Homo sapiens: one gene and its partners. The protein of the gene in region 1 interacts with the protein of each later gene in a biochemical or structural test. Each region holds a gene or a part of one and is shown on either strand. Other genes may lie near its edges.

Region 1 (3,500 bases):
TGTACTCCAGCCTGGGCAATGGAACAAGACTCTGTCTCAAAAAAAAATGTTTTGGTGGAATTGTAAATAGTGATAATAAAGAATAGTAAAGGAATTATGGCTAATATTATATTTTTGGATGATTAGAAAAATATAAAAATGAGTAAAAGAATTTTCAATAATTTGGATCAAAATCCCTGGAATTAGCCAGTAACAGTGGATCATGCCTGTAATCCCAGCATTTTGGGAGGCCAGAGTGGGTGGATCACTTGAGCTCAGCAGTTCCAGACCAGCCTGGGTAACTTAGTGAATCCCCATCTCTATAGAGAAATTAAAATTTTAAAATATTTTTAAAAAGAAAAACAAATGCCTGGAATTTTGCACTGCTCCTCTGACAAAGAATGGTAGACATATAATAGATAAAACCTTTGGTTAAAACACCTAGACATGAAAAGTTTAAAGTTTGTTAGAAATTTTGTAACCAGATATTTTGAATGGTTTTAGTAGAATCATTACTTTGCTTTCATAGTTAACTTTTTCCAGTCCTAGGAAAAACCCTTCTGTGGTTATAAAGCCAGAAGCATGTTCTCCACAATTTGGAAAAACATCTTTTCCTACAAAGGAGTCTTTTAGTGCTAACATGTCCCTTCCCCACCCCTGCCAGACGGAGTCAGGATACAAGCCTCTGGTGGGCAGAGAGGGTAAGTCCATTAGTCATCTATTGATGTATAACAAGCTACCCAAATATGTGGCTTAAAACAATTATTATTTATTTTCTCCCAATTTCTGTGATCAGCAATTCTGACAAGGCACAGAGGGGACAATCTCTGCAGGGACTGGAATCACTGAAAGCTTGTCTTAAGCTGGAGGATCTATTTCAAGGTGGCTCACTCACATGGCTGGCAGTGTAATTTCTTGCCACATGGGCCTCTGCACATGGATATGGGGTATCCTCTTAACCTGGTGGGTGGCTTCCTCTAAAGCTAGCAAATCCAGAGAGAGCGAGCCAGGCAGAAGCTATCCATTTATGGCCTAGCCTCAGAAGTCACACAGCATCCCCTCTGCCACATTGTATTTGTTAGAAGCAAATCACTGAGTCTGGGCGTCATTCAAGGGGAGAAACCAAGCTTATACCTTTTTTTTAATTTTTATTTTTTATTTTTATTTTATTATTATACTTTAAATTTTAGGGTACATGTGCACAACGTGCAGGTGTGTTACGTATGTATACATGTGCCATGTTGGTGTGTTGCACCCATTAACTCGTCATTTAGCATTAGGTATATCTCCTAATGCTATCCCTCCCCCCTCCTCCCAAGCTTATACCTTTTGAAGGGGAGTTGTGTCAAAGCATTTGTGGGCCTTTTTTTTTTTTTTTTTGAGGCGGAGTCTCACCCTGTCACCCAGGCTGGAGTGCAATGGCACGATCTCAGCTCACTGCAACTTCCGCCTCCCGGGTTCAAGTGATTCTCCTGCCTCAGACTCCCGAATAGCTGGGATTACAGGCACCTGCCATCATGCTTGTGGGCATATTTTTAAACCATCACAGCATCAATTGACCATGCCAAAAACCTAGCTAGTATGCAGGAATCTGTTTTTCTTTTCTTGTTTTTTTTTTTTTTCTTTGAGGCGGAGTCTCACTCTGTCACCAGGCTGGAGTGCAGTGGCGTGATCTCGGCTCACTGTAACCTCTGCCTCCCATGTTCAAGCGATTCTCCTGCCTCAGCCTCCCGAGTAGCTGGGACTACAGGCATGCGCCACCACACCCAGCTAATTTTTGTATTTTTAGTAGAGACAGGTTTCACCATGTTGGCCTGGATGGTCTCAATCTCATGACCTCGTGATCCACCCACTTCAGCCTCCCAAAATGCTGGGATTACAGGCATGAGCCACCGTGCCCAGCCTCTGTTTTCCTTTTGTAGTCCAGCTTTTGAGTTTTTATAACTCAGTCCAGATTGAGGGGATCTGCTGTTTTTTAGAGAGAGACAATCTAACATCAGTAGGTTTTCAGACTGCTATGTCAGTGTATCTTATAAATCGGATACATTGACCCTCTTCTTACCATCAACCTTTCAAATCCTTGGCCATCATAACACTTCTGAGAAACTGTAGCCCACTTACATTTTTGGCATCTAGCAGCTAAAGGGGCAGTGTACAGTAGTGTTACAAGCAGGCAGTAGAGCCCAGTAGCCTGGATGTGAGTCCCAGTAATGCTGTTAACTGGCTTATATGATTTGGGCAAGTCCTTTAGTCTCTGTGCCTCAGTTTCCCTATATGTAAAACAGACCTAATGATAAATCCTTGTAGGGTCACTGAGGAACAAATGGGCTGATGCGTATAGAGCTCTTAAAACACTGTCTAGCACGTAACAAGCACCATGTCAATGTTAGTGGTCACTGTTTTATCTAATTGCCTCATTTTGAGTGAGGCAAACAGCTTGATTTTCTTTTCCTTTCCTTGTATGAGTTCCTGTTTTACATAAGGAAGGTAAAAGATGCAGGGCTCTTGAGCCGCTTTGGCTCTTGTTTGTTCCAAGTTCGAAGAAGTAGAACAGCGTGTGTTTTAAACTCATTGCATGTAAAAGTTTCTAATATGCCCATGCTTCTGGGCTCAAGTTTTGATTTACATTTTATCACATTTCAGATAGTAAGCCCCACAGTCTGAGAGGTGACTCCATAAAACAAGAAGAGGCCCAGAAAAGCTTTGTTGACAGCTGGAGACAGAGATCAAACACTCAAGGTACCAGAATCCCTGCTTCTCCTGCAGGGGCCTGCATGGCTCTGAGTAATATGCAGAAGAATTGCCCAGGCCTCTGAGAACCGGTGCCCCGGGCAGTCCTTCAGAGAGTCCAGGGAAGTCAAAGTATGTGGCTTAAGCAGAAGACTTTATAAAGTGGAAAGGGCCAAGGGCAGGTATGTCCCAGAGCCTTCCGCACCCACAGGCATCTTCCTGGGGCTTAGTGGCAGCCTAGAGGACAGTTGGCATCCAAAGAATCCTTACTGTTTCCTTCTGAAAGCCACCGAAAAGATCTCCCATGTCAGAACCTTCTAGAGTCATCTTGTCTTCTGCAGGTTCCATTTTGATAAACCTGCTCCTGAAGCAGCCTTTGATCCCAGGGTCATCCCTAAGCCTTTGCCACCTCCTGAGTAGTAGTTCTGAGTCTCCTGCTGGCACCCCCCTGCAGCCACCAGGGTTTGGCAGGTAAGCATAAGACTCCTGGAAAGCTTGTTTGGGAAGGAGCTTCCTGGAAGCAAATTCCTTTCTGGCCCTGGCCAGCCTGAGAAGTCTGTGGGAAGGGCAGGCAGCCTGGAGAATTTGGCAGGCAGGCTGTTTGGGGCTCTTGACCTTATCTCCATCCCACACTTAATCTATTTTTCTTTGTGTTTGTTGCCAGTACCTTGGCTGGAATGTCAGGCCTCAGGACCACAGGTTCTTATGATGGGTCATTTTCCCTCTCAGCCCTGAGAGAAGCACAGAACCTGGCATTCACTGGACTGAATCTGGTTGCCCGGAATGAGTGC
Region 2 (3,500 bases), about 94 Mb from region 1:
CAGCGGGAGCAGGCATTTCCAAGTCTGTGAGGGCAGGGGGCCTTCCCGGCCCTGGAAAGAGCAGGGATGCCTGGGTTTGCAGCCGTGGTTGGGCGGCTGCAGCTGCACCCAGGATGGCTGGGCTCCCGACCCTGCAACTCGGAAGGGGGCGGGGCTTCCACCTGTCTTGCACCTCAGAAGGGGGCGGGGCTTCTGCCCACTAGCGCCCTGGAGAGAGCAGCCCTAGCACCACCTTCCTCACCGCTCCAACTGGGCTGCCACTGCCATCAATAGCACATTTCAATTTGTACTAATCACATTTCAAGTTCTCCCTAGTTACTTGTAGCTAGTGGCCACCATATTGAGAAGTTCAGGTCTAGGCTTTGCTGATTGGATCTCTTTAGTATTACTTAGCATATTCTTTTTTTTCTTGTAAGTTGGTAACATATTCAGATTTTCTTTTCAATTTTTAAACAGAAGAATACTGTGAATATCAACATTGACACTGAACACATTTGATGAGTTCTACTTTAGAGAAATTTTTTTTGCAAATGAAACTGAGTCACTTTAAGGATTAAAAGCTTTTAATTTGTATTTTAGTGCCACACCAGAGGAATATAATACAGTTGTACAGAAGCCAAGACAAATTCTGTGTCAATTCATTGACCGGATACTTACAGATGTAAATGTTGGTAAGAAACCAATTATTTCTTATATAAACTTTATAAATTAGACTTTTCTTTTCCATGTATAAATTATAGTAGCATTTTCTCCATGTAGTTTTAGATATGGAGTATTTATGATAGTTACTATTTTCAAGCAAGTTATTTGTTAATCAGTATTGCTTATTGCTTGTTACAAAATTTGAATTAGGCTTTTAAAATAATTCTCTTTTCCTGTTTGTTATCTAGATTTTCTACTGCTTGCTATGAGTTCTTTAATATTGGATATTATATGTAAAAATATTTGTCCAGTACCAATCATGTGGACCCTATTTTGGTTAGCTGTTATGCCAGTGGTAGACTAATAGCAAATGCCACCCAAAAAAACCTCTTTAAGTAAGTTACTCTTTAAGTAGGTTCATGCCTGTGCCTATAGGAGATTATAGGATTATGTGAGTTACTGAATCAATTATTGCCTGTTTGTGCCAATCTGCTAGACAGAATATTACCAACCTGGCAAGATGGTGTCACATTTGTCATATCTGTTGAAATTACATGGGAGGGATAATATAAAATGGCATTAGGCTCAGGGTTTATAATTTGGATTCCAAATTTGGCGCAGATTTTATGACTTAGACTAGCCATTAATCCTTTCTTTTTCAATCAGTAAAATGATGGGTTGCTGAAAAATAACAAAGGACTACTGAATACTTACAAGATGTGTTTTTGTATCGTATTCATATTCCCTCCGTTTAGACTACTTGCCCTTCCCCTCTCTGACCAACTCCTCATCTAGGAATCATTTCCTTCACAGTGTCCTCCCAGATACCTGTTTCTCCTTATTCTGGATTAGTGCTGTTACCATATTGTATTATAATTATTAGTTGGTTTGTTTGGCGCCCCACTGGATTGTGAGAACTTTTTTTTAATCCTTAGATTTTAGCATTGCCTGGCATATTATTCCTGAAGTACATGTTTGATAAATAGATGTATGGTAGAGGAATGCATGTGATTTTTAAACATTTAAAATTAGATAAGACTGTAGTGTTGGCTGGGCACGGTGGCTCACGCCTGTAATCCCAACACTTTGGGAGGCCGAGGTGGGTGGATCACCTGAGGTCAGGAGTTTGAGACCAGCCTGGCCAACATGACGAAACCCTGTCTCTACTAAAAATACCAAAATTAGCTGGGTGTGGTGGCACACACCTGTAGTCCTAGCTACTCAGGAGGCTGAGGCAGAAGAATCACTTGTACCCCGGAGGCACAGGTTGCAGTGAGCCAAGATCACACCACTACACTCCAGCCTGGGCAACAGAGTGAGACTGTGTCTCAAAAAAAAAAAAGACTGTAGTGTTTAGCCCCATCAATTTAGCTTGAATGTTGTTGAGTGCTGTGCTGGATATAATTCTGGTCACCAAAGTCTGGTTCCCCACCCCCACCCCACTTTTTGTTTTTTTTTTTTTAATTTTAAGAGACAGAGTCTTGCTTTGTTCCAGGCTGGAGTGCAATAGTGTGATCGTAGCTCACTACTGCCTTGAACTTCTGGGCTCAAGGGAATCCTCCAGCCTCAGCCCCCTGAGTAGCTGGGACTATAGGCACACTACCACTCCCAGCTAATTTTAAGAAAAATTTTTTTTGTAGAGACGGGATCTTGACATCTTATCCAGGCTGGTCTTGAGTTCCTGGGCTCAGGTGATCCGCCCACTTCAGCCTCCCAAAGTACAGGGGTTACAGGAGTGAGGCACCTTGCCTGGCCCACAGTCTGGTTTCTTAACAAAAGGACCATTGTTTAATTTGTCATGACTCTTTAAAATGAATCTTATTGTTTTAGTTGCTGTAGAACTTGTAAAGAAAACTGACTCTCAGCCAACCTCCGTGATGTTGCTTGATTTCATCCAGCATATCATGAAATCCTCCCCACTTATGTTTGTAAATGTGAGTGGAAGCCATGAGGCCAAAGGCAGTTGTATTGGTAAGTGCTGTTATTCATGCATTCACTTGCCATCTGTTCTATAAAATCCTCCTTTTACTGCTCTTCTGAAATATTACATGTACAGGATTATACTTTTTTGGGTCAGCTTTGCTATAAATTGAAGGAGCAAAATGGTAATGGTTATTTTTCCTTCACATATCCTTATTGTTTTCTTTTTAGTATTGTATACTAGGTACTTAGAAATAATCAAATTTGTTTATTTGCCATTGAACACTTTGGCATGGTTTTCTTTTTTCTGTTTTTGGTAATCTCTTTCTTCTAGATCAGAGCTTGGCAAGCTGTAGTCCACAGGGTGGCTGCCTGTTTTTGTGAACAAAGTTTTGGTGTTTTGTTTTGTTTCCTTTTTTTTTTTTTTTTTTTTTTTTTAAATAAGACAGGGTCTCGCTATGTTGCCCAGGCTGGTCTTGAACTGGTAGACTCAAGGGATCCTCCTGCCTCAGCCTCCTGCATACCTGGGACCATAGGCACATGCTACTGTGCCTGGCTTCAGTTTTTGTAAACAAAGTTTTATTAGAACACAGCCATGCTCATTCTTTTACTTATTGTCTGTGACTACTACAAAGGCAACTTGGGCACTCAAGCCAAAAATATTACTATCTGGTCCTTTAAAAAAAGTTTGCTGACCGCTATTCTATATATTGAAGCTTTTCTCTAGGCTTATTCTTTATTGCACCTACTACTTTTGTCCCTTCATTGGTGTCTTCATAAAGAGATGCAAAATAAACATTTTTTTTGTATAATGGATAAAGTATTTTAAAATTTTTTGTTCAAACTTTAACTCAACTTTGATAGCATGTCCTCCAAGAAGTTTTTTTCTGAGCACTACTTCTAACTGCTTAGAACTGGCTTGGTTATTCCTTTATTCT
Region 3 (3,500 bases), about 79 Mb from region 1:
AGTGTAGTGGCACAATCTCAGCTCACTGCAACCTCCGCCTCCCAGGTTCAAGCAATTCTCCTGCCTCAGCCTCCCAAGTAGCTGGGATCACAGACATTTGCCACCACACCGGCTAATTTTTCTATTTTTAGTAGAGATGCGGTTTCGGTTTTACCATGTTGGCCAGGCTGGTCTTGAACCCCTGACCTCAGGTGATCCACGTGCTTCAGCCTCCCAAAGTGCTGGGATTACAGGTGTGAGCCACCACACCCGGCCCGTTACAGGTTTTTATGTGACCAGATCTTTAATTCTGTTGGCTATGTAGGAGTGAGATTGTTGGTCTTGTGTTTAATCTTTTGAGGAACTGCCAGACTGTTTTCAAAAGCAGCTGCACTATCTTGCATTCCCACCAGCAACACATGAGGGTTCCACTCCTCCGTGTTCTTGCCAACATTGGTCTTTTTGATTCTGGCCATCCCTGCAGGTGTGAAGTGGCATCTCATTCCTGATGGCTAATGATGTTGAACATCTTTTCGTATGCTTGATTGGCTATCTGTGTATCTTCAGAGAAATCCTGGACTCACTTTTTAATTGGGTTGCTTGTCTTTTTACTATTGAGTTGTAAGAGGTTTTTTACATATTCTGAATATAAGTCCTCTATCAGATATGTAATTTGCAGTTATTTTCTCCTCAATCTGGCTTATCTTTTTCGTGGTTTTAATGTTTTCTTTTGAAGTGCAAAAGTTTTGAAATTTGATGAAGTCCAGTTTAACTTTTTTTTTTTTTTTTTTTTGTATGAACCAATTAGAAGTTTGCTGAGGGCATTTTGTGTGACTTGAGATCCAGGGAGAATGGGACCGATACCTTTTCCCCGAAAACATGGAAGAAATCAGACCTGGTCAACTCTGATATCTGCCTGGCTGGGTTCTGCTTGGGGCATCAACAGCATAAAAAGATTTGTTCTGACAGTAGTTTGACAATGTTTATTGCAGAAAAATAGTAGCAGTTTCTCTTGTCACCATTTAACCTGAAAAAAGGAGAATTCAAGGGGATTGTCTTGGGGAGGCAGTATGGCATGGGGGAAGGAGCTCTGGGCTTGGACTATATTTTGACACTCAGGTCTACAGAGCGACCATAGGCAAAAATCACATTTTCCCCTCAACTACCCATTTCCTCATCTTTCAGATGGAATGACAGTGTCTCCTCCTCAGGGAAGAGAGCACTGCAGGGAAGAGAGCACAGTGCTTTGCACTCGCTGGGTGCCTTATTAAGGCATTACTTCTCTTCAGTATCTGAAGGAAGATAATGTGGAAAATGTGTGTCTGATGGTCTTAGAGTAGCTCAAAGGGTTGAGACAGTGGGTGGCCATTTCAGAGGGCTGGTTTGGCTGACTGTGCATGGAAGCCAGGACATCAGGTTGTTGAAGGCGGCATAGTCAGAGATGGGGAAAGTACAGGGAGAATTCCAGCCCTCACGGGGAGTTGGGTCAGCTCTCTGAAGCCTTTTGGTCTAATGTTTTGTGGTTCCTTGAATTATTTTTTCTTATTGGGCGCATAGAAGCTGTCTGGAGATCTACCTCCCCTTTTGTAATTGTGGTAAAATACACATAACAAAATTTACCTTTTCTTTTGTTTTTTTTTTGAGACAGAGTCTCACTCTGTTGCCAGGCTGGAGTGCAGTGGTGTGATCTCGGCTCACTGCAACCTCCGAAAGTGATTCTCCTGCCTCAGCTTCCCAAGTAGCTGGGACTACAGGCGCCCACCACCGCGCCCAAGTAATTTTTGTATTTTTAGTAGAGACGGGGTTTCACCGTGTTAGCCAGGATGGTCTCGATCTCCTGACCTCGTGATCCGCCCGCCTCAGCCTCCCAAAGTGCTGGGATTACAAGCATGAGCTACTGCCCTGGCCCAAAATTTACCATCTTAACCTTTTTTGTTTGTTTGTTTGTTTGAGACGGAGTTTCACTCTTGTTGCCCAGGCTGGAGTGCAGTGGTGCTATCTCGGCTCACTGCAACCTCTGCCTCCCTGGTTCAAAGTGCTAGGATTACAGGCATGAGCCACCGCACCCAGCCCTTTTGTTTGTTTGTTTGTTTTGTTTTGTTTGCTAGTTTTTTGAGACAGGGTCTTACTCTGTCACCCAGGCTGGAATGCAGTGGCACGAACGTGGCTCACTGCAGCCTTGAACTCCTGCGCTCAAGCAATCCTCCCAGCTCAGCCTCCTGAGTAGCTAGGACTATAGGCATGTGCCACCAGGCCTGGGTTATTTTTTTTTTCTTTTTGTTTTTTTTGAGACGGAGTCTCACTCTGTTGCGACCAGGCTGGAGTGCAGTGGCACAATCTCTGCTCACTGCAACCTCTGCCTCCCGGGTTCAAGCGATTCTCCTGCCTCAGCCTCTCGAGTAGCTGGGACTAGAGGCACATGACACTACGCCCAGCTAATTTTTGTATTTTTAGTAGAGATGGAGTTTTACCATGTTCGCCAGGATGGTCTCAATCTCTTGACTTCGTGATTCATCCGCCTTGGCCTCCCAAAGTGCTGGGATTACAGGCATGAGCCACCGTGCCCGGCCATTTTCTATTTTTATACAGATGGGGTCTCACTATGTTAAGGCTGTTCTTGAACTCCTGGGCTCAAGTGATCCTCCTGCCTTCACCTCCCAAAGTGCTGGAATTATAGGCATGAACCACCATGCCCAGCCATCTTAACCATTCTTATGTGTATGGTTCAGTGGCATTAAGTACATTCATATTGTTGTGCGGCCATCACCGCCATCCATCCACAAAAGTCTTTTCAGTTTGAAAACTGAAACTGTCTCGGTTAAACACTAACTCCCCATTCTTCCCAGCACCTAGCAACCATCATTTTACTTTCTGTTTCTGTGAATTTGACCGCTCAGTGAGTGGAACCATATAGGATTTGTCCTTTTGTGCCTGGCTTCTTTCACTCAGAATCATGTCCTCAAGGTTCATCCATGTGCCAGCACGTGGCAGAATTTCCTTCTATTTTAAGGCTTCATCGTCCATCATATGGACAGATCGTGTTTTGTTCATCCATTGGAGATCTTTTCTGAGCCTTCTGTGTTTCTGACCTGGAAGCGCTGAGCCTACCCACAATGGGGCTCCTGAACCTTAGGGAACAGGCCCAGTTCCTGGATGGGGTTTGGTGCTTAGGGTTTTCCTTTTTGGCAGTAACCACATCTGTTTTGGTGCTCCCTCAGGGACTACCGCGCCATCCCAGAGCTGGACGCCTATGAGGCCGAGGGACTGGCTCTGGATGATGAGGACGTAGAGGAGCTGACGGCCAGTCAGAGGGAGGCAGCAGAGCGGGCCATGCGGCAGCGTGACCGGGAGGCTGGCCGGGGCCTGGGCCGCATGCGCCGTGGGCTCCTGTATGGTAGGTCCAGTTGTCTGCCTGCCCGAGGGACTGGGAAGCTGGGAAGGAGTCTGGGAGGGGAGTAGAAGGTGCTGGGGATGACCGCAGTAGCAGGTGTCTCTTGCCTCCCCAGACAGCGATGAGGAGG
Region 4 (3,500 bases), on another chromosome or scaffold:
CTGCCACCGAGAGAGCACCTTTTCCCAGTAGTTCAAACCAAACAGCAGAGATTGGCTCCCATTGGTCCCGGTTGAGTCAAATGCCTGCCCCCATGCCTCTGATTGGCCAGACCTGGGTCGCTTCTCCATTGCTGAGTGAATTACTGCACTCTGATTGACCAGGCCTGTTTCATAAAATGAGGATAATGATTATAGTATCTAACTCATAAGGTTATTGGCGGGGCTAAATAAATTAATATAGGACCAGGGGCAGTGGCTCATGTATGTAATCTCAGCACTTTGGGAGGCCATCGTGGGAGGATCACTCAACGCCAGGCGTTCAAGACCAGCCTGGGCAACATAGTGAGACCCCCCCGCCATCTCTACAAGAAAAAAAAAAATAGTCAGATATGGGGGCGTTGCCTGTAGTCTCAGTTACTCAGGAGGCTGAGAAGGGAGGATTGTTTGAGCCCAGGAATTGGAGGCTGCAGTGAGCTATGATGGCACCACTGCACTGCAGCCTGGGCAACACAGTGAGACTCTGACTCTAAAAAAAAATAAAGTAATAAAATTTAAAAGATAAATAAAAATGCAAATGCTTAGAGCAGGGCCTGGAACATAGCGAGAGCTGTGGCAGGGTGTGCCGTGGTTATTACTACAGGAGGCTTATTTCAGATGTGGTGGATAGGTGTCCACTTACTGAGTCAGCATGAAATTTATATTTCTTTTTCTTTTTTTTTTTTTGAGATGGAGTCTTGCTCTGTTGCCCAGGCTGGAGTGCAGTGGCACAATCTCAGCTCACTGCAACCTCCACCTCCCGGGTTCCAGCAATTCTCCTGCCTCAGCCTCCCGAGTGGCTGGGATTACAGACGCACACCACCACGACTGGCTAATTTTTTGTATTTTAGTAGAGACAGGGTTTCACCATGTTGCCCAGGCTGGTCTTGAACACCTGAGCTCAGGCAATCCACCCTCCTCGGCCTCCCAAAGTGCTAGGATTAGAGGCATGAACCACCCGTCCCGGCCTGAAATTTATATTTCTTGCCACAAGTTGAGGTCACCAAAGTCTGAGAAACCAGGCCCTTGGCAGTCCTCAACTAGAACAATCGACCCTTTGTGGTTCCTGAGCAGCCTTTTGTTGAGGACATCTTCTCCTGTGTCCCTGTCCTCCAGCTGCCACTGTCTCCCTCCTCAGGCAGCCAGGCCTGCTGCCCTGAGCCTCCCTCTCCTGCGGCAGGCGAGCAGCTGTCTGCAGCCATCTTTTAGCCTGGGCAGGCCCCAAAGACAACACAGGCAGTGGCTACAAAGCATTTGTTCCTTGTGTCCTCCTGCACCTGGATTCTGGGGTAATTGGCTCATGAGGGTGCCCAGGAGGAGATAGTAATGAAAAATAACAATTAGTTGAGGCCGGGAGTGGTGGTTCAGGCCTATAATCCCACCATTTTGGGAGGCTGAAAGCAGGAGGATCGCTTGAGGCCAGTAGGTCAAGACTAGCCTGGGCAATAAGCGAGACCCCCTCTCTGCAAAAATTTAAAGGTGAGGCTCCAACCCTCACCTCACTGCTCTAAAAATTTATTATTATTATTATTTTGAGACAGAGTCTCACTCTGTTACCCAGGCTGGAGTGCAGTGGCGCTATCATGGCTCACTGCAACCTCTGCCTCCCGGGTTCAAGCGATTCTCCTGCTTCAGCCTCCCGAGTAGCTGGGATTACAGGCGCGTGCCACCACGCCCGGCTAATTTTTGTACTTTTAGTAGAGACGGGGTTTCACCATGTTAGCCAGGCTGGTCTTGAACTCCTGACCTCAGGTGATCTGCCCCCCTCGGCCTCCCAAAGTGCTGGGATTACAGGAGTGAGCCACCGGGCCCGGCCCTAAAAATTTCTTTTTAACCACTTAATTGAGGCTTCACTATTTGCCAGGCACTGGGCTCAGCACTTTACAAGTGCCCTATTATTTGATATTCACATTATACCTGTAAGATCATTATGGAAGTGATCTGAACAGAGGAGGAAAAGGAGGCACAAAAAGGTCACGACTCAGTGTAGGGTCAAACAGTTGCCAAGTGGCAGAGCCAGGATTTGACCCCAGGTCCCCTGAATCCAGACCACATGTAGCCACCACTGGATTCAACCAGGCCTGGCCTGATGGCATCTCAGAGCTGAAGCTCAGGGCTGAAGCTGTGGCAGGCTTTGTGCTCTGTTCACCTTTGCTGTCCTCCCTTGGACAGGGCATCCCAGAGGCATCTGATCCACAGCATATCACACTTGTGCCTGTCTATCAGCTGATGGGCAGATGCCAGGGTACTATGGCCTGGTGGCTACTCACCAGCCACCAGCTAGCTATTTCTGCTCAGCCCAGGGTTCTTATCCTAAAGTGGCCTTTTCTCAAGTCCAAGTTGGTGTGATTTCCAACAGTGGATTCTCTTTTTTTTTTTTTTTTCCTTTTTTTGAGATGGAGTCTCGCTCTGTCACCCAGGCTAGAGTGCAATGGCATGATCTCGGCTCACTGCAACCTCCGCCTCCCGGGTTCAAGTGATTCTCCTGCCTCAGCCTCCCAAGTAGCTGAGATTACAGGCACGTGCCACCACGCCTGGCTAATTTTGTATTTTCAGTAGAGATGAGGTTTTGCCATGTTGGCCAGGCTGGGCTCAAACTCTTGACCTCAGATGACCCGCCTGCCTCAGCCTCCCAAAGTTCTGGGATTACAGGCATGAGCCACTGCACCCAGCCCAACACTGGATTCTTTATCCGCTGGCTGGCTCTTCCGCAGTTGATTGTGTGACTTCTTCCCCTATCTGAGCCCCAGTTTTCTCATTTATAAAATGGGGATGTTAACACCATCCCCGTCTAGATGATTGGAAGGCCCGTCATGCATCTGAGATGCTTGCCCCAGGGCCTGGCATGGAGTAAACGATGTCAGGGGCTGTGATGGGTGGTGCTATCGTAGGGACTGAGCAAACGGTGTCATATGGTGCATAAGTTCCTCTCCTCCAGGTCGCAGAGTCATCTGTTTGGTGGGAGCTGGAATCTCCACATGTAAGTAACCCTTCTCCCCCAGCAGCTACCCCCAGGAACTGGGGAGTCCCTCCCAAGGGCTGGGGAGGAGCCCTATCTGAGCCCTGTCCTGGGAGGGTTAGTATGGTATAGACCAACTGCTCCCTGACCCCCCTTTCCTAGCCGCAGGCATCCCCGACTTTCGCTCTCCATCCACCGGCCTCTATGACAACCTAGAGAAGTACCATCTTCCCTACCCAGAGGCCATCTTTGAGATCAGCTATTTCAAGGTTTGTGCTCCCCCAGGAAGGGGCGTCTGTGAGGGGTGGGGATGGGGTCACCTGGCTCCAACCCTCACGCTACCTGGGGCATCTGGCCCTCTGGCTGTCTCTCCTACAGAAACATCCGGAACCCTTCTTCGCCCTCGCCAAGGAACTCTATCCTGGGCAGTTCAAGGTGAGATCTTTGTTTTGCAGGGGGCGAAACAGGAAGGGTTGGGGGAGGGCACGCATGAGAAGCCCCGCCA

The links.
Region 2: the proteins of ATRIP (region 1) and ATR form a complex in vitro, tested with the Homo sapiens proteins (4 studies listed by BioGRID and IntAct, with this or other methods).
Region 3: the proteins of ATRIP (region 1) and MCM2 form a complex in vitro, tested with the Homo sapiens proteins (one study listed by BioGRID).
Region 4: of the proteins of ATRIP (region 1) and SIRT2, one has a biochemical effect on the other in vitro, tested with the Homo sapiens proteins (one study listed by BioGRID).

What each region holds. Positions count from the first base shown.
Region 1 is NC_000003.12:48,456,737-48,460,236, forward strand, and holds part of ATRIP (ATR-interacting protein), read left to right. Parts: intron 1-522; coding exon 523-680; intron 681-2,622; coding exon 2,623-2,718; intron 2,719-3,050; coding exon 3,051-3,180; intron 3,181-3,373; coding exon 3,374-3,500. UniProt on the Homo sapiens protein: Required for checkpoint signaling after DNA damage. Required for ATR expression, possibly by stabilizing the protein.
Region 2 is NC_000003.12:142,565,234-142,568,733, reverse strand, and holds part of ATR (serine/threonine-protein kinase ATR), read left to right. Parts: intron 1-579; coding exon 580-671; intron 672-2,472; coding exon 2,473-2,613; intron 2,614-3,500. UniProt on the Homo sapiens protein: Serine/threonine protein kinase which activates checkpoint signaling upon genotoxic stresses such as ionizing radiation (IR), ultraviolet light (UV), or DNA replication stalling, thereby acting as a DNA damage sensor.
Region 3 is NC_000003.12:127,601,411-127,604,910, forward strand, and holds part of MCM2 (DNA replication licensing factor MCM2), read left to right. Parts: intron 1-3,197; coding exon 3,198-3,373; intron 3,374-3,466; exon of another isoform or gene 3,467-3,485; coding exon 3,486-3,500. UniProt on the Homo sapiens protein: Acts as a component of the MCM2-7 complex (MCM complex) which is the replicative helicase essential for 'once per cell cycle' DNA replication initiation and elongation in eukaryotic cells.
Region 4 is NC_000019.10:38,889,619-38,893,118, reverse strand, and holds part of SIRT2 (NAD-dependent protein deacetylase sirtuin-2), read left to right. Parts: intron 1-2,974; coding exon 2,975-3,016; intron 3,017-3,157; coding exon 3,158-3,264; intron 3,265-3,373; coding exon 3,374-3,430; intron 3,431-3,500. UniProt on the Homo sapiens protein: NAD-dependent protein deacetylase, which deacetylates internal lysines on histone and alpha-tubulin as well as many other proteins such as key transcription factors.